Regions from separate parts of the Homo sapiens genome. Here all the other regions are linked to region 1. The links come from fine-mapping of genetic effects on gene expression. A gene starts in region 1. Each other region holds a variant in brackets. All regions are shown on one strand. Distances are between the middles of the regions. Region 1 holds the start of BPI (bactericidal permeability increasing protein). Region 2 has its middle 3.8 kb from the start of LBP. Region 3 overlaps LOC149684 (a long non-coding RNA gene).

Region 1 (7,466 bases):
GTAAACTGACCCTTTATAGGAAACCATATTGCCTCTGTCACAAATACTCAGCTCTGCCATTACTGCACAAAACAGCCATAGACAATATCATGTTCTTATATGTGCCTGTATTCCAATAACACTTTATTTGTTGGCATTGAAATGAGAATTTCATATAATTTTCACATGTTGTGAGATAGTATTTTTCTTCTTTTGTTGTTGTTTTGAGACAGGGTCTCGCTGTGTCGCCCAGGCTGGAGTGCAGAGGCATGATCACGGCTCACTGCAACCTCGACCCGCTGCACTTAGGTCATTCTCCCACCTCAGCCTCCCTAGCAGCTGGGATCACAGGTGTTCGCCACCACACCAGGCTAACTTTTTAAAAATTTTTTTTTAACATTTTTGCAGAGATCTGGGGTTTCACCATGTTGCCCAGCTGGTTTCGAACTCCTGGGCTCAAGTGATCCTCTCACCTCAGCCTCCCAAAGTGCTGGAGTTACAGGCATGAGCCACCATGACCGGCCCTTTTGATTTTTTTCCCATCATTTAAAGACATTAAGGCCATTTTTGTCTTATAAGCCATACAAAAACGGAGGGCTGTAGTTTGCTGACCCCTGGTCTAAAATATCACCCCTGAAACACCCAGTTATGCCTCCTGCTAGTTTTTGTTGGATACTTAATTTGTTATTTGCTCTATGCTACACCCCCACAGATCTCCCACCTCTCTGGGTTTTGGACTGTCTCCCCAGGGCCTTTGCACATGCTATTCTTGCTCCCTAAGAAATTCTTCCCTCCCATATTCACCCGGTCAGCTTCTAGTCAGCTCATTCATCACTTCCTCTGGGAACCCTCCCTGGCTTAGTAGATCAGAGCAACGCCCTGTGTTATTCTCATGATGCTGTGGACTGCTCTTTCGGAGCCCCTGTTACCATTTGTAATTATGCATTTATTCACGTGACTCTGACGAATGTCTCTCCCCTATTACATGTAAGCCCCCTGAAGTCAGCAGCAATCTGTTTTATTTACTCGTGTGTCCCTTACATTCCCATTGTGCCTGACACTTTGAAGGCACTTAAGATTTGTTAGATGAGGCTGGGTGCGGTGGCTCACGCCTGTAATCCCAGCACTTTGGAAAGCCAAGGCAAGTGGATCACTTTAGGTCAAGAGTTCAAGAGTTCAGCCTGGCCAACATGGTGAAACCCCGTCTCTACTAAAAATACAAAAAATTAGCTGGGTGTGATGGTGCACGCCTGTAATCCCAGCTACTTGGGAGGTTGAGGCAGGAGAATCACTTGAACCCCGGAGGCAGAGGTTGCAGTGAGCTGAGATGGCACCATTGCACTCCAGCCTGGGCCACAGAGCGAGACTCGGTCTCAAAACAAAACAAAAAAAGATTTATTAGATGAATAAATAATGTCCTAATGGCAGGAATTCTACCACCAGTTATAATGTGGCTAACAGCATCAAAGAACCAATTAAAAGGCAGACACATTACCTGAAAAGGAGTAAGTAGTAAGATGAGGGAGCCCAGACTTTGGGTTTTCTCGGAGCCAGTTAGGAAATAATAATATCAATGAAATGTATCGAGCTTTACTCTGTGCCAAGCACTGTTCTAGGCTCCGTATATGTATGAATTTGTACAATCCTAGGAAGTAGGTCCTGTCACTACCCCCATTTCACAGATAAGGAAGCTGAGGCTCAGAAAGCTGAGGTGACTTGCTAGGGGCCACACAGCGGACAAGGGGCAGAATTTGAACCCAGGCCTTCTGGTCCCAGAGCCCATGCCCTAGAGAAGGCTTTCTGGGGGTTCAAAAGTAAATGACACATAACTGGTCACTGTGTGGAGGGAAAAAAAAATGTGCAGTGGCCAGGATCTGTAAGTTGACAGGGGCCAGGCCTCGAAGGGTCTCAAATGCCATGCCAAAGGGTCAGGATAGCTTCTGAAGGCAGTAGGGAGCCATGGAGAATGTGAGCCAGGGGAGGATGTGTAGGGATTTGCTGCATTTCAGAAAACTCACTCCGATTGGCACAAGGGGCCTGGGTAGAAGGGGAAACTCAGGCTGCTATGACGGAGCATGAAGACCACTGAACTTAAAGACCCTGACTGAGCCTCTGTGTCGACAGGCTTCAGGGCCATACTCCTTCCCCCTAGCTCTTCTGTCTTCTGTGGCCTTCTGTCTGCAGCTCTAGGATTCAGTGATGTCCTGCTGGGCTGGGGTGGGAATTCAGGGGTGGGATACCAGGTCCCCTGAGTCCTGTCTGTTTTCCCAACGCACCCCAACTGGTGAGGCTCTGCCTTCCCCTTGGTCTGATTTCCCTGGGGCTGGGTGTCACCCACTGTTTTGCAGGTCATCTCTCTGCCATCGGGAGGCAGCATCGAGCAACCCCGTGCTGGGGCATCAGGCAAGACCAGAGCTCAAATCCAGGCTGCCCACTTCTCACGTGTAAATGTGGATAGCAGCAGTTTGTCTTACACAAGGCTGAAGTGAGGGTAAAAGAGACTGTGTGTGTAAAGTTCCTAGCTCAATGCCTGGCACAGGTTAGAGCAGGTCTTTCTCTCCTCTGCCTGGGCTGGGGTGAGTGGTCTGGGGGGACCCTCTTTGTGTCACCCAGTGGAGCACTGTGCACAGTATGGCCGCCAGCCCCTGCAGTGGGGAGAGCACGGGGTGGGGAGGTCCTCCCACACTCTCCCTCTGACCCTGCTCAGCCTCCTCAGCAACGAGAGGCAAATGGCAAGGCTGAGAACTGGCTTTGGAAAGAAGAGAAGGGCTTATAAGTCAAAGGTGGAGGTTACATAGAGGGAAGGAGGGGACCATGAGGACCCTCAGGGGTCTGAGCACTGGACTTGGAGTCCTCTAGACCAGTGCTCCAATCCCAGCTCTGCCATCCCAGCCCTGCAATCTTAGGCAACTCGCTTTGCCTCAGTTTCTTCATATATAAAATGGGGGCAAGGGGACCTGCCCTGAGGTGCTATGAGTGTGCCAGGTGCTGGATCTAAAGGGGTGCACACAGTAGATGCTAAGTAAGTGCTCCTCAGGGGTGGAGAGGAGGGAAGGGAGGCATCCAGTTACCGTAGTCCAGGCCCTTCTGGGAGATCCTGACCACGACGCCAGGGTTGACGGCCGCTGTCACGGCGGTGCCTATGGCGACCAGCACCATCAGGGACGCCCATCTCGGCGCGTTGCAAGGGCCCCTGGCCATGTTCTCTCTCATCCTCCAGAGCTGCCAAAACCTCAAGGCCTTGAGGTTGAACCAGGGAGCTATAAAAGAGTCGGCTGGGGAAATGCAAGTCAGTAGAATGTGGAAAGGAGGAAGGAACCTGGTGAGGGTGGGAAAGAGGGAGGGCCGCTGTGGTTTTCCATTGTGGTTAGGGCCCCACAGGCAGGGAGAAGTGCAGCCTGGGAGGCTCGCATGTCCATGTATGCATGCGTGTGTGTGCGCGGGCGTGCGTGTGTGTATGTGTGTGTGTAGATTGGTTCCCCTCCCTAGGCACCCCATTCCCCGCTCTGTGTCCCCACCCAAATGCCCCCATCTACAGACTCCCTTGAAGGTGGGTGGCACAGACATAAGGATTCATATTTTTCTTTCTACTTTTGATTTCTTTTGTATTTTTGATAGTAAAACATTTAAGAAAACAGATGCTTTCGTGTTTTCTTGTCCTGAGAGGCAGTAGTGGTAATGATTCAATGCTCACATTTTAGAGTCTAGTATCTTGGCTATGGTTTTAAATCTTAGCCCTGTCATTCTCTAGTGGTCCGACCTCAGGCAAGCCCTTTAACCTCTCTGAACCTCGGTTTTCTCTTCTGCAGAAGAGAAATACATAGTACTGCTCCCTCTCTGGATTGTGGAGAAGATAAAATGAGCTTAAAACCACGTAAAGCATTTAGCATACTGCCCGTGCAAAATAAATATCCAAATGCTAGCTATTAATGTTATCCTGATTTTAAAAGTAACCCATGTTTATTGGCCAAAATTTGAGAAAGAAACAAGAGAATACAAATTACATATAACTCCCTCTTCCGGAGACAAGCCAAAGTGTATTTTAGAGTATTTCTTTTCTCCCTCTTTTGTTGGTAAGCATAGGTAGAGAGTCCATGTTTGTTTGTTAACCAATATGGGATCACCTGGTCAGTTTGGTAAAGTTCCCTTTTTTCGAGAAACAATAGGTAGCAAATGTTCTTCTCCAGCATTAAATATTTCATTGCTTCCTCATCCCACAGCTTTCTTATCCAAGCTTCTGTTTTTGTACATTTTTACTCCTTCCTTTGGCAGATGTAGAACCTGAGGCTTCACCAGGGGAAGCGTTCTTCCCACGGTCACTCAGCAAGCTGCTAGCAGAGCGAGGATCAAAACACAGCCCTCCAGATGCATCCCACACCAGCCCGAATCCCTCAGCGCCTTGGGAGTTGGGGGGATGTAGACACTCCCCACCGCCAACCCAGCTTTCCAGACAGGTCCCTGTCTGCTCAGCCCCTGCCCCTCCCTCTGCAGCAGCCTCAGGCCTCGGGTGGGCAGGAACCCCACTGGGCAGCCTGCTCCGTCTCCATGGTGATGAGAGGAGGGGCGGGGCTGCAGAAGGGGCAGCCAGCTTCTCTCCCGCTGGGTCCTCATCAGCCCCCTAGTGCCCTGTCTCCCCGACTTTGGACTTTATGAAAGTCTAATGAAGTCCGCTGAGCTCGGAGGACGTGAGACCTTCTGAAGTTTTCTTCTTTTTTTCTTAAAAGTTTTTTTCTTCCTCTCTTCGTTTGGTTCTAAAAGAGTCTCCCCTCCTGCTTCCATCTGCAGCAACTAGAATTCTTCTGGCTTGCTTCAGAATGAAAGCAGTGGCCGTGTGTGAAGCATCCACTGTGTGCCAGATGCTTCATATGCATCATCTCCAAGCCAAAAAACAACCCTGAGAGAGGGATGATTCTTCCCCATTTTGTTTTATTATTATTATTATTATTATTATTATTATTATTATTGAGATGAGGTCTTACTATGTTGTCCAGGCTGGTCTTGAACTCCTGAGCTCAAGCAATCCTCCTGCCTCAGCCTCTCAAAGTGTTGGGATTAAGGCCGAGCCACACCGTGCCTGACCTCTTCACCATTTTGGAAACAAGGAAACTGAGATGCAGCGATCACATCACTGTCATGGTCATTCCTCCTTTCACGCAGAGAAGATTTTCCCTTACCTGAGGCAGGTGCCAGGAGGACTCATGACTGTAGGCCCTCACCCCAGCTCTCCCTTTTTCCAAGTGATTTGAGCCCCCAGACTCAGATGTCTGCATCTGTACCAGGAAGATTGCTCTAAGTAGCAGCCAGAACACATAGATTGATGACTTGTCACAAAAATTAGATTTTTGAAAAATTATCTTGCACATTTTTGAACACTTCCAGCTCTTAGTTGCTCGAAGTTCCTGAGTTCCCCAAGGCCCAGGTAGATGTGGTATCCGTGAGGGTGTCAGCTAGGAAAGGAACATTAAGATGAAATCACATGACAATGACCTACATTGCTATAAAATTAGAATCTTAAAACCAGCTGACGGCCGGGGGTGGTGGCTCACACCTGTAATCCCAGCACTTTGGGAAGCCAAGGCAGGTGGATCACTTGAGGCCAGGAGTTCGAGACCAGGCAGGCCAACATGGTGAAACCCTGTCTCTACTAAAAATACAAAAATTAGCCAGGCATGGTGGTGTTCACCTGTAATCCCAGCTACTCAGGAGGCCAAGGCATGAGACTCTCTTGAACCCATGAGGCAGAAGTTGCAGTGAGTCAAGATCACACCATTGCACTCAAGCCTGGATGGTAGAACAAGACTCTGTCCCCCCACAACCTCCCACCAAAAAAAAAAAAAAACCCAGCTGGCAAGTTTCTGAACAAGCAACCCCACTGGCTTCCCCGATGTCTCATGCCCAGCCACATCTAGATGAGCCACATCAGTGACTTTCCACAGTCTCCTTGTCAGCACTGCTGCTGGCCATGGGGCTGCCCCACTGCTTCAGATCTGACCCCGTATCCTGTATCAGTAACAGTGTCTTCAACCCAAGTATCAGAAACCATCAACTCACATTGCTTCAACGATAAACAAATTTATTATGGCAGAGAGGAAGTCCAGAGGGAGGAGGACAGGTTTGAGATTCTGATTGATTCAGCAACTGACCGACATCTGCAGGATCATCTTTCCATCTCTCTGCTCTCCCATCCCCGTGTCTCAGATTTGCTCTTACACTGGCTTCTTTCATGGTTGCAAGATGGCCGCAGCAGCTCCAGCCATCCCATCTAAACAGACTTTCCCCAAATATCCTTTTCCTCTTCCTCCTCCTCCTGCTTTTTGTTTTTTTCTTTTCCCTAAAATTATTATAAAATATTTCAAACCTAAGAAAAGAATAGACCACATAGGTTTATAAAACCTTAACATTCTGCCATATTTGCTTCCTAGAGTTCCTTTTAGTTCTAGGAATTTTGATACATGTATAGCTATGTGTTGTAACCAGGACCACAATCAGGATATAGAAGAATCCTGTCATCCCCCAAAACTCTTCTCCTGCTATTTCAATTTGATGCAGCTTAAATCATAGGGAAAATATATTCTTCTCAGTAGAAATTCACAGATGGGGTGGATCAAGAGTTGGTCAGTTCAAGGGCTGGATCTGTCTATTTTCCTGCTCTTCCGTCCTTAGGCTGACGACTTTTTCCAGAAGAAAGTGAATTGGGTTTAGAGCCAGGCAGTCCTGGGTTCATAGTCCCAGCCATGCTACCCTATTCTGTGAGCCTGGCCAAGTTCCTCCACCTTTCTGAAATTGGGGTTCCTCATTTAAAGATGAGGAAACAGTGCTCATCATGGCAGTTGTTCCTGAGGATGAAATGAGATAATAGGTGTGAATCGATTTGCACAGAGAAGGTGCTCAGTAAATAATCGTAAGTCAACCTTCATCACTAGCTGGCTGGAGAGCCTCAGAGCCCCCAGGAAAACAAGCCAGGGGCACTGGAAACTGAGCTCTTGGCCCTCTGGCCTCTGGGTTTGGACTGGATAGGGGCAAAGATAGAGGAATCTGTGGCTTACATTGCCTCTGTGAGCCTTCCACTCCGCCAGGGGCTTGGAGGAGAAGCAGCCACTCCCTGCCTTATGTGAGCCCCCGCAGCACAGCAAGGCTGTTAAGGGCATGGTTTGGAACCTGACAAACCTGGGCCCAGATCCCAGCTCTGCCACTTCCTCGCTCTGTGACTGTGAGCTTGCTGCTTAAACTTGCTGAACCTGTTTCCTCGTTTGTCCCCACGCTCCATCCTCAGGCACAGGTCTTGCCTGGGTTTAACATGAGGTCACCTCTGTGGTCACCTGAGGCCCTGTACTCTCCCTCCCCTCAGCTCTGATTTTCTAGCCCTTTCCCTCCCTCACCCACCAGGGTCCCCCTTCCTCTGTGTGTCCGGCTTCCAGGCTATGCTGCCAGCCATTCTTTCATCCTGAGAGGGGGTTGCAGGTGAAGGAGGAGCTTGTGGTAGATGC
Region 2 (7,466 bases), 39 kb before region 1:
GAAGGGGAGGCACAGGGACTGGAACCTGCTTGCGACATCACTGAAGTCATAAGGTCATACTTAGAAGCCAGTTTTCACTGCCCAGATCAGTGGATGAGGAAGCCTGACTCCTATGATCATCCCTGTCCACCCTCCCCACAGAAAGACCCCATATTCATCACTGTTCATCTTGCCTCATCTCAGCCAGTCTCTTAAGAGCTCGGCTAGGAAGGCCTGGTTTAGCAGATGAGGAAACTGAGGTTCAAAAAAGCCACATAGCTCCCTTGAGATCTCACCCCCAGCAGAGGGCAGGGTTGAGAGTGAAGCTACATCTGGCACCAACCAAACTCTCTTTTTTAAAATATATTGGCTCGTTTATTTAAAAAATAAATGTTTCCCCCAATGGGAAAACAGTGTTTCTCAAACCTTGCTGGTGGTGAAATTTTCTGGAAGGCAATTGGCAAATGTTTAAACAGTTGCATGCCCTGTGACCCAGGAATTCAATTTCAGGGACTTGCCCTTAAATACATAATTGAGTCAGTGTGCCAGTAAATCACTGCTCCAAGATACCACTGCTATGCTGTGGGAAACAGGACAGGAGAAGTGAGACCCAACCTCATGTATCCACCAGAAGGGCATTGGTTAAATGAATTATGACATGCCCCTTAAAGTGAGGCTGCAGAAATAAAGGTATTTCTTGGCAAGGAAAGGGATGTCATGAGGCATCCGTTTCCGATGGCACCATAGAGTAAGGTTCTATTTTGGGGGGTTCAAAATAGGCTTCTATGTTCAACAATCTGGAAAATATTTAGCAAGGAGTCATGAGGCATTGTCTCTGGTTGTGGGGGTAGAATTATAAGTGTTAAAAAAGTTTTTGCTTGTTGATACGTACAATTTTTTTTTCTTTTTTCATTTTTTGAGACAAAGTCTACTCTGTTGCTCAAGCAGGAGTCCAGTGGCATGAACATCGCTCGCTGCAACCTCAACTTCCTGGGCTCAAGTGATCCTCCCACCACAGCCCCCTAAGTAGCTGGGACTACAGGTGTGAGCCACCATGTCCAGCTAATTTTTTGTATTTTAGTAGGGACGAGGTCTTGCTATGTTGCCCAGGCTGGTGTCGAACTCCTGAGCTCAAGTAAGCCTCCCGCTTGGCCTTCCAAAATACTGGGATTATAGACTTGGGCCACCATGCCCAGCCTCTAAAATTTTTATTTTCTTGGGGGTATGGTCCCGGGCATATATTCGCAGTAAGTAAAGATAGTAAAATTTCATTCTGGAAAACAAAATTTATAGTACAGACTGTGTTTAATTTTTAGAGTTTTGCCCCAGCCCTGCTTACATTTGTGAGTTCTGCTTTGCCCTCACCCCCAGGAAGCCTTCCCTGACCACTCCCATGCTTCTCTGGATTCTAGAAAGGGTCCCCTCTGAGGTCCCAGAACCCTTTGCGCTTTCCCCACCACAGCATTAACCACTCTGCTTTTTGATAATTGTGGTCCTTTAAAAATATGCCCACGAATTCTTTGATATTCCTTCCATCAAAAGGTAATGTTTCTGCCCCCTTCCCTTGAAATTGGGCAGGTTTTCATGATGGCCTCAACCAACTGAATGTGGTGGGATTAACAGGGTGACTCCCAATAGGTCACAAACAGCACTGGCAGGCACTGAGGTTAAGATCAGAATGTCCCACGTTAAGCACAGGGAACCCCACAGTCCAGGCCTCTCTGCTCCTCTGTACCGTGTTGCTCCTGTCACTGGGGCTGAGGTTTGTTGGGATCCTCATCCGTCCCTCCCCTCAGTCCCCACACCACCAGTCTGATGGCTCCTTGCAGGCACGGCTGAGTCTTCCATTTCCTGAGATCCTTGCAGCACCCAGCAGAAATTGGAAAGAAACTGATATTTATTGAGCACCTACTATGTGCAGGCGCTGTGCTGGTTAAGCTGCACGTCTCCTCTCATCCTTGCATCAGCAACCCCAGGTGGATATTTTAGTCTTGTCTTGAGATGAAGAAACTGAGGTTTGGCAGGGTGAAGTGATGTAGGCTGCAGTCACCCAGCAGGAATTTAAGTCCAGGTCTGCAGGATGCCATTCCAAAACTCTGGTCAGGGCAGGGTTCTCTTGGGAGGCAACAAGCTGAGCAGAGGCCTCAGGGTAAGGAGCCAGCCTTTGGGAGGCTTTGGAGCAGGAAAGGGCTCACAGGTGCATCCCCAGTGTGCCTAGGGGCCTTTGCTTCCTGGACCTCAGCCTGCCCAGGAGGGGAGGAGAGTGGGGGAGGACATTCTGGAGCATAAGGATCTTATGGGGACATAGATGTCACTCTTCCTCTGGCAGCAGTTTAAGGATGTCCCTGGCTGGGAGTCATTTGCAGGGGTGGGAATTTCCCACAGCAGCAATCTTTGGACCTTAGAGCTGCCACATGGCCCAGGCCTGGCCTCCACCCCTGCAGGTGCCCACTGCTGGCTAAGGTCCCTGCTGATGGCCCAGGACCCAGCAGAGGCCTCAGGGAGCAGCACGACCCCACTGCTGGTCAGAACCCCTGGGCCTTTCTCCTACCAGGCTGTCCATCCAATTCCACAAAAGCAACAGCTGCTACCACTCTGGCCACCACTCAGTCTTATTGCAGTGAAATAGGGACTCTTTTAACAAGGCTGTTTATTGTGTTCTTGTGCAGGAGAGGGCCCCCAGAAATGGCAGTGCATCAAATGATGGACAGGCGATCATAAAACTGTCCCTCTGACATGATAAGTGGCCACGAATGGCGCCAAGAGGGAGAGGAGTTCCCTAACAGATAGTTGACATCATCTGGAGCCAGCAAACCACAATTCCCTGGTAAGGTCGAGCAGAAGGGCAAATGTTGGAGTCTGACTTGTATATGACCTTTTTCTTGCGGCGACGGACCAGTAAGGGAAAATCACCCCAAGTGAGCATGCGCACAACCTTAGTAAACACACTGCGCATGCGGCCCCTCCCAAGTGCTGGCAGGCCATTGCGCATGCAGGGAGGGCGCAGCAGCCCACCGAAGGGAGGAATCAAGGAGGAGAAGAAACCCCAGAACCAAGCCAGTGTATAAAAGCCCCGAGCCAAAGGTTGAGCGGGGCACTTGATCTCTCAGTTGTACTTTGCTTCTTTCAATAAACCTTTGCCTCTGCTTTAAAACTTGCCTGCGTCTCTCAATTGAATTCTTTCCTCTGAGAAGACAAGGGCTGGGAGTGTTGCGGACTCGCCACCGATAATATTCT[C/G]ACTACAAAAGTGTTACTGAAAAGATTTTGAAAAACCCAGAATTTGGAATCCATAGTGTCTAGAATACTGAGCAGCAAATAGTAGATAATTGCCAAAGGAATAAACAAACCTTATGTTTATCTTTATGGACTCTGGGGCCAGATGGCCTGGATTTGAATCCTGACTCCCCCACGGGGTGACTTTGGGCACTTTGTGACTCAGTTTCCTCATCTCTACTTGGGTTCAGCCAGAGGGTGGCATGGCAGGAGGTCAGATGTCAGGGCACTTTTCCCTGCTGTCTTCTCTAGATCACAAGTGTGGCAGTTGGCTGTGTCCCTCCTGATAAGGCCTTGTCCTTGGCTCCTATTATCTCCTTGGGCTGGGATACCCAGATGCTTTTCTTTGCTGCTTGAGCCTTAGGAAAAACAGTCCCTGGTTGGTTTCCTCAAGCTTGTCCCCCAACTCTAGAAATAGCCACTTTATTCAAATCCCAAGAACCAATGCAGTTGGATTCTCTTTTCTTGCCTGAACCCTGTTGGACACAATTAGCAACACTGAGCATTTCTTCTGCACTTATTCATCTTTTGTGCAAACGCCTGCCTCTCGCAGAGAGCTTTGAATCCTTTTCCAAAGTCTTACAGGTTTTTTGTCAAGGCCCTGCTCCTAATGGGCTGGGGGACCTGGAACAAACTCCACCCCTCTCTGTTCCTCATGTTTCCCCCAAATGCAGATGAGGGCTGGGGACTAGGACAGCTTTTCAGAAACAAAGACGTGCAGTCAAGTCCCCCAGGGATCTTGTTTAGATGCAAATCTTGATCCATCATGTTCCTCTTGGGGCTGAGCCTCTGCATTTTAACAAGCTCCCTGGTGAGGGTGATGCTGCTGACCACGGATTGTGCTTGGAGCTTCGGGAACAAGGGACTAAATGAGCTCCGAGTTCCCTCCAAGCTCAGCAGTTCTCTAATGCTTCACTCTCCTTTTCGATAGTTTTCTATGACGGTGCCCACACTCCTGAGAACACTGACTCTTGAAAGAGAATGATGTTATGAATTCCTGCAGTTCTGAATCTCTGCAGGGTACTTTGGAGTTGGGAGTTTAATATTTATGGCAGCCTCTCCCCAAGCCACATCACCTGCAGATCTGAATGTGTGCCTGTGTACGCACACGCACAGACACACACACATGAGCCCTGAGACATGCGGGCTTACAAAATAAAAGTAGTAACGTCAGTGACGATCCTTTGTGGCTTGAAGGTTGCGTGTCTTGAGATACCAGGAGCCCCCATGGAGCAGGGCTGGTCATGTGGATAAACAGCTCCTCACCCCAGAGAGCCCTTACTTTTACAGATGGGGAAACTGAGACCTAGAGAGGGAGAACTGGCCCAGGTTACACTGTGAGCCTATTGCTGAACTGGAGAGGATAAATCCAGAGTTCTGGCCAGCCAGGGGCTCTGATTCTTGGGGTCAGGCCCATTCAGGCAGACAGCCCTGGATCATACATTGAGAATCACTGGCATAAATGTTTTGAGTTATGCAGATGTGGGTTGAAATCCCAGATCATTTTTAAAATAAATACTTACTGATCACCAACTATGTGGCAGGCATTGGGAATACTACTGTAGCCAGATATAGTATTTTTTTTGTTTTTTTTTTTTTGAGACAGAGTCTCACTCCATCACCCAGGCTGGATGGAGTGCAGTGGTGTGATCTCAGCACACTGCAACCTCCGCCTTCTGGGTTCAAATGATACTCGTGCGTCAGCCTCCTGAGTAGCTGGGACTACAGGTGTGTGCCACCACGCCCGGCTAATTTTTGTGTTTTTAGTGGAGACTGGGTTTCGCCATGTTGCCCAGGCTGGTCTCGAACTCCTGGGCTCAAGTGATCCACCTGCCTCAGACTTCCAAAGTGCTGGGATTACAGGTCGTGAGCCACTGCACCTGGTCAGATATAGTCTTTACAGTATAGTAAGAAGAACTGCGTTTATTCAAATTAGAGCAAACTTGGATTACTGTTGTCAACCCCTGTACCACGGATTTGACATGTATTTGATTCTCATAACAACTTTATGAGGTAGGTACTATAATGATGTTCCCTTTATAGATGAGAAATAGAAAACCTGAGAATTAAGTATACTGCCCAAAGTCACACAGCTGGTAAATAGCAGACGTGGGATTTAAACCCAAGATATCTGGGATCATGGTTCATACTCTTAACCACTGTGCCATGACCCTATCAATCATACCTCTGATTCTTCCCAATAACCTCATGCCGAGAGGGCAAGATTTTAACTCTCCTTTTCAAAGGAGGAAATAGAGGGCCAGAGAGGTTAAGGAACATTTGCAAAGTCACACAGCTCTTGAGGGGGCCGGATTTATGTTTGAAACCACCGCCAGGTGACTCCAGAGCCCAGGCTCTGAACAGTTAGCTTAGCAGGCCACACGACTTTTCTAGAGACTCCTCATCTGAAAAACAAGGGCAACCTTGGCTACCTTTAGCGGTTGTCATGAGGATTAAATAGGATCATAAGCCTGAAGAGATAGACCCAGGGACAGGGCTGCTCATGGCCACTAGCGGGACATGGCAAAATGATGAAGACAGTGCTTAGTCTTCCTGTGCCCCTCCCCACCTTCTCTCCTTGCAGAGGGTACTCCTCCCTCATATTTATTTAATAAGTCAGCATTTCCAAAAGGAACCCCAGGAAGGCTGTGCTTATCCCAGAAGGGAAGCTGCTCTGATGGTGAGCTTTTAGGCAGTTTGGAGTGAACAATTCTTTTTTTTCTTCTTCAATTGTCTTTTGCCACTTTATTGACATATATTTCATATACATAAAATTCACCCATTTAAAGTGTACAATCCAGAATTTAATTTTAGAACATTTTCAACGTCACCCAAAGAAACCCCAAACACACATTTGCAGTCATCTGCAGCAGACAATGCTTAGCCTGAAGGGAGAAGCTGCTCAAATAGTGGTTCTGTAGCCAACTTGGCAGAACCTTTGGAGTGTGTTGGGGAATGCTGCTCAAACCCTAACCCCCAAGCAACTGCCTTTCCTCAGCCATTAGAGAGAAGTTCGCAGGCACAATGTGTTTCATGCACCAATCTTCAGGTCCAAGAAAGATTTAGGTTGATGGAAAAGTAATTATTTTTTTTGGCATTAAAAGTAACGGCCAAGACTGGATTCAGTGGCTCACACTTGTAATCCCAGCACTTTGGAAGGCCAAGGTGGGTGGATCACTTGAGGTCAGGAGTTGGAGACCACTCTGGCCAACATGGAGAAACCCTGTCTATATTTAAAAATATATGTACACAAAATATTAGCCGCGCGTACTGGTGTGAGACTGTAATCCCAGATACTTGGGAGGCTGAGGCAGGAGAACGGTTTGAATCCGGGAGGCAGAGGTTGCAGTGAGCCAAGATCACACCACTGCATTCCAGCCTGGGTGACAGAGCGAGACTCTGTCTCCAAAAAAAAAAAGTAATTGCGGTTTTTGCATTAAAAGTAATGGCAAAAACCGCAATTACTTTTGCACCAACCTAATAATTGCATTTTTTTTTTTTTTTCTATAGAGTGTGGAGCAGGGGGTGCCTATATGTTACAGAAAGTAGAGGGCAGGTGTAGAAGGGGGTTAACTCCAAAGAGAATGAGGGTGGGGGATGGCAGGTGTGTGTCCATATCTACCAGCTAGTCTCCCCAGCAGCCAGAGGGCTCTTTTACAAATGTGAATTGGATTGTAACATTCTTCTGCTCAAAACTCTCCAGTGGCTTGCCTTATCTTTTGGAACAAAACCTAGAGCCCTTAACAGTCCTCATGGCCTCCCAGTCTATCCCACGCTGTGCTTCCCTTCTCTCTCTTCCTTCCGCCCTTGCTAGCTGCTCTTCTGTTCTATTCAGGGCCTCCATAGCCCCTGGCTAGTGGAGAAAAAGATGCATACTACTGGTGGACAAATTAGAGAAAGACTTTTGTTTCCTCAACCTGGTACAACCTATGTTTTACAGTGTACAACCTATGCCACAGAACAAAGAAGTTCTGCTTTAAACGTGCCAAGTCCCCCAGAACAGACAACATTTTGACATCGGGGAGGAGCAAAAAAAGCATGGGCTCTGACATGTGGGAATAGATAAGGTGGGAATTCCAACTCTGCCACCTGCTGGCTATGTGATCAGGGAAGGGTAACTCAATTTAAAATGTTTGAACAGCTGGGCTCGGTGGCTCACCCCTGTAATCCCAGCGCTTTGGGAGACCCAGGCAGGTAGATGACCTGAGGTCAGG
Region 3 (7,466 bases), 23 kb after region 1:
GCTTGGCTAATTTTTGTATTTTTTGTAGAGATGGGGTTTCACCATGTTGCCCAGGCTGGTCTTGAACTCCTGGGCTCAAGTGATCTGCCTACCTTGGCCTCCCAAAGTACTGGGATTACAGGCATAAGCCACTGCACCTGGCCTCTTTTAATTTTTATTTTTAGAGATGGGGGGATCTTGTTTCATCACCCAGTCTGGAATGCAGTGGTGCAATCTTGGCTCACTGCAGCCTCCACTTCCCAGGCCCAGGTGATCATCCCATCTCAGCCTCCTGAGTAGCTGGGGCTACAGGCATGTGCCACCACGCCTAGCAAATTTTTGTATGTTTTGTAGAGACGGGGTTTCGTCATGTTGCCCAGACTGGTCTTGAACGCCTGGGCTCAAATGATTTGCCTGCCTTGGCCTCCCAGAGTGTTGGGATTACAGGTATGAGCCACCGTGCCTGGCATTTTTAAATTTTTACTTTTAGAGATAGGGTCACATTCTGTCACTCAGGCTAGAGTGCAGTGGTGCGATCATAGCTTACTGTAACCTCAAACCCCTGGGCTCAAGCGATCCTCCCACCTCAGCCTCCTGAGTAGCTGGGACTACAGACACATGCCAACCTTGCAGATAGATCCACATCAGTCTGTTGAGAGCAGTGTCATTCTGTTTACTGCCTGCCAACATTCCAGGGACATATTTTCGTCCTTGATTTAGTAGGTCTGGGGACAACTTTAACATTGCCTGTCTCTTTCCCACTGAAGCATCCTTTGGCACTCCCCTCATTCTCCTTGGGGCCTAGACAACTCCTTGGTTCCCTTCCTTGTGAGCTTCTATTCCATCTTTTAACCCTGGGGGTTTCCTGGGTTCTGGGGTTCTGTCCTGGGCCCCCTTATCTCCCAGTTCAATAGTCATGAGCCAAGGCAAATGACAAGTGGGTCAGGCAGTACTCCCAACCCCCCATCATGATGACAACTCCTCAACCTCCTCTCCAGCTCAGATCTCTCTGGAGCCCCAGATCATCATCCCTGAGAAGGGATGTCCCATAGGAGCCTCAGGCTCAGGCGTTCAAAACTAAATGTGTCTTTTCCCCAGCCTTGCTCATCCCTGCTTGCCTCTGTCTAAGAGGTGGGCCTGCCTTCCTCCCATGACCTGCCATCACCCTGACCAACCCAGCAACAGCAACCAGCCTAGCCCTATGGGTTTGCCCCTTTGCTAGTTAGTTCAGCACCCCATTTCTCCTCCTCAGCCCCCCATGCCCTCCGTCCACCATCCAGGCCACCATCACTTCCAGCCCGGTCCATGTAACAGATGCCTCACTGGCCCTCCTGCTGCCACCTGGTCCATTCTCCACATGGAAGTCAGAGGAACTTGAAAATCTAACCTGGGGCATGCCCCCACCTCTCTGTTTAAACCTTTTGCTGGCATGGGGCCAAGGGAGAGCCCCCTAAAGGTTCTCTGAAAAATCACCTTGCAAAAGGCACATTAACTGGAGAAAAGGTACACAAATGTATTTAATGTGTATTCACGGGAGTCTTTAGAATGAAGACCCAAAGATACAGAGGAAATTGTTCATTTTTATGCTTAGGTTCCATGAAGTATAAACAGCCATGTAGAAATACGACTGGACAAAAAGGTCTGATCGAATGCTGATAGAATGAGTGGGAACCCAGCATGACCCGCCTATCTAGATTATTCTTGGCCTCTCTGAGCAGTGCTCCTTCCTTCTGGGGATGGGGCAGGACCTTTTCTGGAATGGGGGGTCTTATGACCTACAGTCAAAGGAAAGATCATTTCTTTATGGCCAGTTTTTATACAGAAAGTTGGAGGGAAAATTAGAGTAGTATTTTTAGGTTTTATGACTAGCTTTGGGGAGAAGAGGTTCTGGTTTCTATAGCACATGCTAGTTTCTATGGCTAGCCTTCAGGAATAGGACTGAGAGCTAGGAGGGCAGGAGGGGGTCAGAGAAGAAACTCACTTCTGAGGCCTTCATTTTGGGGTATTGTTTTCTAAGTCTGATATGGTTTGGCCGTGTCCCCCCCAAAATCTCATCTTGAATTATAATCCTCATAATCCCCAAGTGTCAAAGGGGGGACCAGGTGGAGGGTTCCCCCATGCTGTTCTCATGACAGTGAGTGAGTCTCACGAGATCTGATGGTTTTATAAGGGGCTCTTCCCCCTTTGCTTGGCACTCACTCCATCTTGCCACCCTGTGAAGAAAGTGCCTGCTTCTCTTTTGCCCTCCACCATGACTGTAAGTTTCCTGAGGCCTACCCAGCAATGTGGAACTGTGAGCCAATTTAAATCTCATTCCTTTATAAATTACCCAGTCTTGGATATTTCTTCACAGCAGTGTGAGAACAGACTAATACGGTAAATTGGTACCAAGAGTGGGGCACTGCTATAAAGATACTAAAAAATGTGGAATTGACTTTTGAACTGGGTAACAGGCAGAGGTTGGAACAGTTTGGAGGGCTTAGAAGAAGACAGGAAGATATGGGAAAGTTTGGAACTATCTAGAGACTTGTTGAGTGGCTTTGACCAAAATGCTGATAGTGATATGGACAATGAAGTCCAGGCTGAGGTGGTCTCAGATGGAGATGAGGAACTTTTTGGGAAATGGAGTAAAGGTCACTCTTGCTATGCTTTAGCAAAGAGACTGGTGGCATTTTGCCCCTGCCCTAGAGACCTGTGGAACTTTGAACTTCAAAGAGATGATTTAGAGTATCTGACAGAAGAAATTTCTAAGTGGCAAAGCATTCAAAAGAATGCAGAGCATAAAAGTTTGGAAAATTTGCAGACTGAGGATGCAATAGAAAAAGAAAAATCCATTTTCTGGGGAGAAATTTAAGCCTACGGCAGAAATTTGCATAAGTAACCTGGAGCCAAATGTTAATCACCAAGACAATGGGGAAAATGTCTCCAGGGCATGTCAGAGACCTTCATGGCAGCCACTCTCATCACAGGTCCCAAGGCCTAGGGGGGAAAACGGTTTTGTGGGCTGGGCCCAGGCCCCCGCTGCTCTGTGAAGCCTTGAGGCATGGTGCGTCCCTGCTTCCCAGCTGCTTCAGTTCCAGTCGTGGCTAAAATGGGCCAAGTTACCACTCACGCCATTGCTTCAGAGGCTGAAAGCCCCAAGCTTTGGTGGCTTCCATGTAGTGTTGAGCCTGTGGGTACACAGAAGTCAAGAATTGAGGTTTGGGAGCCTCTGCCTAGATTTCAGAGGAAGTATGGAAATGCCTGGATGTCCAGGCAGAAGTCTGCTGCAGGGTT[G/C]GAACCCTCATGGAGAGCCTCTGCTAGGGCAGTGTGGAAGGGAAATGTGGGGTTGGAGCCCCTACATAGAGTTCCCACTAGGGCACCACCTAGTGGAGCTGTGAGAAGAGGGCCACTGTCCTCCAGATCCTAGAATGGTAGATCCACTGACAGCTTGCACCATGCACATGGAAAAGCCACAGGCACTCAATGACAGTCAACTAAAGCAGCTGAGAAGGGGGCTGTACCTTCTGAAGCCACAGGGGCAGAGCTGCCCAAGGCTTTGGAAGCCCACCCCTTGCATCAGTATGACCTAGATGTGAGACATGGAGTCAAAGGAGATCATTTTGGTTTACTTAAAGTTTACATAGTAAACTTTAAGGTTTAATGACTACCCTATTGGATTTCAGACTTGTATGGGGCCTGTAGCCCCTCTTTTTGGCCGATTTCTCCCATTTGGAATGGGTGTATTTGCCCAATGCCTGGACCCCCATTGTATCTAGGAAGTAACTAACTTGGTTTTGATTTTACAGGCTCATAGGCAGAAGGGCCTTGCCTTGTCTCAGATGAGACTTTGGACTTGGACTTTTGGGTTAATGCTGGAATGAATTAAGACTTTGGGGGACTGTTGGGAAGACACGATTGTGCTTTGAAATGTGAGGATATAAAATTTGGAAGGGGCCAGGGGTAGAATGATATGGTTTGGCTGTGTCCCTACCCAAAATTTCATCTTGAATTATAATCCCCATAATACCCATATTTCAAGAGCAGGACCAGGTGGAGGTAATTGGATCATGCAGGCAGTTTCCCCCATGCTGTTCTTGTGATAGTGAGTGTGTGCCTGATGGTTTTATAAGGGGGCTCTTCCCGCTTCGCTTGGCACTCACTTCATCCTGTCACCCTGTAAAGAAGGTGCCTGCTTCTCCTTTGCCTTCCACCATGATTGTAAATTTCCTGAGTCCTCTCCAGCAATGTAAAACTATGAGTTAATAAACCTCTTTCTTGTATAAATTACCAGTCTCAGGTATTTCTACTTCTTCTTCTTCTTCTTTTTTTTTTTTTTGAGATGGAGTCTTGCTCTATCACCAGGCTGGAGTGCAGTGGCACGATCTCAGCTCACTGTAACCTCCTTCCAGGTTCAAGCGATTCTTCTGCCTCAGCCTCTCAAGTAGCTGGGATTACAGGCCTGTGACATGATGCCTGGCTAATTTTTGTATTTTTAGTAGAGATGGGGTTTTGCCACGTTGGCCAGGCTTGTCTTGAACTTCTGACCTCAAGTGATCTGCCTGCCTTGGCCTCCCGAAGTGCTAGGATTACAGACATGAGTCACTGCACCCAGCTGGGGATTTTTTTATAGCAGTGTGAGAATGGACTAACACAAAGCCCCAACACTGGCTTCTTATACTTTACTAGAAGAAGAGGAAAGTGACTTCTTAGCATGTCATGTAAGGTCCTTTTTTGAACTGGCTCCTGCCAACCTTCTCCAGCCTCACCTTGCTCAGGCCTCAGGACCTTTGTGCTCACTGCTCCCTCCTCCTTGAACATGCTTTACCCAAATGCTTCGCCACTCACTACCTTGCCTCCTTCAGGTCTCCGCTAAGGATGTGTTCATCAAGACGCCTTTTCTGGCTACCTGTCATGAAATAGGAGCCCCTTACTCTGCATTATTTCCCCCCTCAGCACTTACCTCCTCATGAATATTATGCCTTGGTTTGCTTATTGGTTTGGTTTTTTTCTTGTCTTTCCCCTAGAATGGAAGAGCCATGAGGGCAGGGGCTTTGTGTACATTTGCTCATGGTGCCTAAACCCAGTGCCTGAATAGGGCCCTGCATATAGTAAGCACTCAGCAGGTGCAATAAACTTCTTGCCTCTTCCTGCCACACAAATCTGGGCTCCTGCAACACTGAACTGCTTTTTGCTGCCCACCCACACCGCTCTTACCTCCAAACCTCTGCTCATGCTGATCCTCCTGCCTGGAGGGTCCTTCCTCCTTTGTTTTTCAAATTTTCATTTAATTAAAAAAATTATTTGTACACATATTTTCCAGAGATGGAGTCTCACTCTGTTGCCCAGGCTGAAGTGCAGTGGCACAATCATAGCTCACTGAAGCCTCAACCACCTAGACTCAAGCCATCCTCCCACCTCAGCCTTCCAAGTAGCTAGGTGCACACCACCATGCCCAGCTAATTTTGTATTTTCTGTAGAGATGACGTCTTGCTTCTCTGGTCTCAAACAAACAAGTTCAACCAACTCCTTCCTCAGGCTGGTTTCAAACTTCTGGCCTCCCAAACAACCTTCAGCCTCAGCCTCCCAAAGTACTGAGATTATAGGCATGAGCCACAGTGCCTGGCCATTTGCATAGATATATTCTATGGCTCCTTTAGGATTCTGCTTGTGTTATCAGCTCCCCTAGGCATCCCTCCCTGACCACTTCCCCTCTGCCTGGTCAAGTACCCTTCCTGGGCTCCTGTGGTATCTCAGACATCTCAATTGCAGTACTTGTCACTGCACTTTTGAAGGATGTTTGTTGTATACATGCTTGCTTATTGTGAGCATCTTGTGAGCCAACTCCCGCCCTGCTAAACCCTTGGCAAAGGGCCGGAAGTAGTCAATGCTGAGTGAATGTTTTTATGAATGAATGAATGAATGAATGAATGAATGAATGGAGTTAGCTTAGGTTTAGCCATAGGTCTTATTCAGTGACCCTGAGCAATCTCTGTCCCTCTCTGGGCCCCAGTTTTTCTCAATCTGTATAGTCAAGCTGGGTCTAACTAACCATCTGTGTTTATTAACACTGCAATTCTGCTCCTAGCCCCTGGGGTTCTAATCCTATTGGGGGAGGCAGATGTCTGCCTGGATTGCACCCCCATGGATCATTCTGATGTTTCAACAGCTAGATCCATGAAGACCCATTCCCACTCCGCAGACCCGAGACTCTGCTTTATAAGAAACCAGGTGAAAGCAGCACGTGTAGGCTCCTGGAGGACAGTCTTGGAGGACTCCCTGGGATGGGGGAACACAGGCAGGAAAAAAAGTGACCGCCTCCAGCTTACCCCCTCCCCTATCAGGGCTGCGGACTGAAACGGGGAAGAAAAACAAGCACAGCTGCACAGGACAATTTAGCCCTTTCACCATGACTTAAGCTCCCAGCCGCCTGTTGCGTGAGGCCGCAACATGACCCCGGCCCCCTCCGTGGCGCCACCGCCATAGCATCTGCCCAGTTTTGTTCATACCGTAAGGAAGAGGCCTGGGGTGTCCTTGGGTAGCCCCAGAGCTCTGAAGTGGGGCCATAGAGGGAAAGGGGCCGTCCCTGTGGGAAAAGAGGGAGAGGAAGCTAGAATGTCGGGGAGGGAGACATCTCAGTGCTGAGAATCCAGGGATGGGAGGAAGCTGAGCTAAGCTGTGGCTATTTGGGGTGTGTGTGGTTTGGGGAGCCCCTCTACTATTTTTTTTTTTTTTTGCAGCTGGACCACTGTAAGGGGATGTGGGCAAATTGTACAAGCCCTCAGGGTCCCCCTTACCTTCTCTGTGAAATAGGTGTGGTAACTCTGTTGATGCTGTGAAGAGGCCAGTCAGGTATTTGCCCCTCCCAGCATGCTGTGTGGCCCTGGAGAAGACAGTTACTCTCTCCCTGAGGACATCTTTGCAAGGCAGGTGGGGGCAGAATAGAGATGTCTAAGGCAGCCTGTATCTGAAGCGCCCCATCCTTACACAGCATATCAAGAGTATGTAGCATTAACACAATTTATTACTGTTGATATTGGCCTTGATCACCTGGCCGAGGTCATATTTGTCAGATTTCTCCACGGTAAAGTTACTCTTTCTCCTCTTTCCCATACTGTAACTTTTGGAAGGAAGTCACTATGTGCAGTCCACACTTTAGGAGTGGAAGTTATTTATTTATGCTGTGTCTTCTTGGGGGTGAAGTATCTACATAAACTATTTGGAATTCTTCTGCACAGGAAATTTGCCTAATCTCTCACACTTACAGCCATGTGCTGCATAATAACACTTCGGTCAACAACGATGGTGGTCCCGTAAGATTATAATGGAGCTGAGAAATTCCCATTGCCTAGACCTTCCGGTAGGACAAGATGTGGAGGTGATAGGTAGTGGTACTGATGATCATGATCCAGTGTAGGCCTAGGCTAATATGTGTGTTTGCATTTTTTTTTTTTTTGACATGGAGTTTTGCTCTTGTCGCCCAGGCTGGAGTGCAGTGGTACAATCTC

Evidence for each region. PIP is the estimated chance that this variant, and not a neighbour inherited with it, causes the effect.
Region 2: its variant is the best candidate, but not a certain one, in a credible set for the expression of BPI in whole blood (TOPMed, PIP 0.62).
Region 3: its variant is the best candidate, but not a certain one, in a credible set for the expression of BPI in prostate (GTEx, PIP 0.64).

Annotation. Positions count from the first base shown.
Region 1 is chr20:38,299,938-38,307,403 of GRCh38, reverse strand. It overlaps BPI (bactericidal permeability increasing protein), which reads right to left and starts at 3,248. Exons shown (of 15, transcript NM_001725.3): 1 at 3,051-3,248. The coding sequence starts at 3,180.
Region 2 is chr20:38,338,929-38,346,394 of GRCh38, reverse strand. No RefSeq gene overlaps it. Among named protein-coding and RNA genes, the nearest start is that of LBP, 3.8 kb to the left of the region's middle. RefSeq lists enhancers at 1,860-2,637, 3,418-4,194. The variant C/G (reference allele first, on the strand shown) is at 3,217.
Region 3 is chr20:38,277,263-38,284,728 of GRCh38, reverse strand. The region is part of intron 1 of LOC149684 (a long non-coding RNA gene); the gene reads right to left. Among named protein-coding and RNA genes, the nearest start is that of KIAA1755, 20 kb to the right of the region's middle. RefSeq lists a silencer at 4,462-4,571. The variant G/C (reference allele first, on the strand shown) is at 3,256.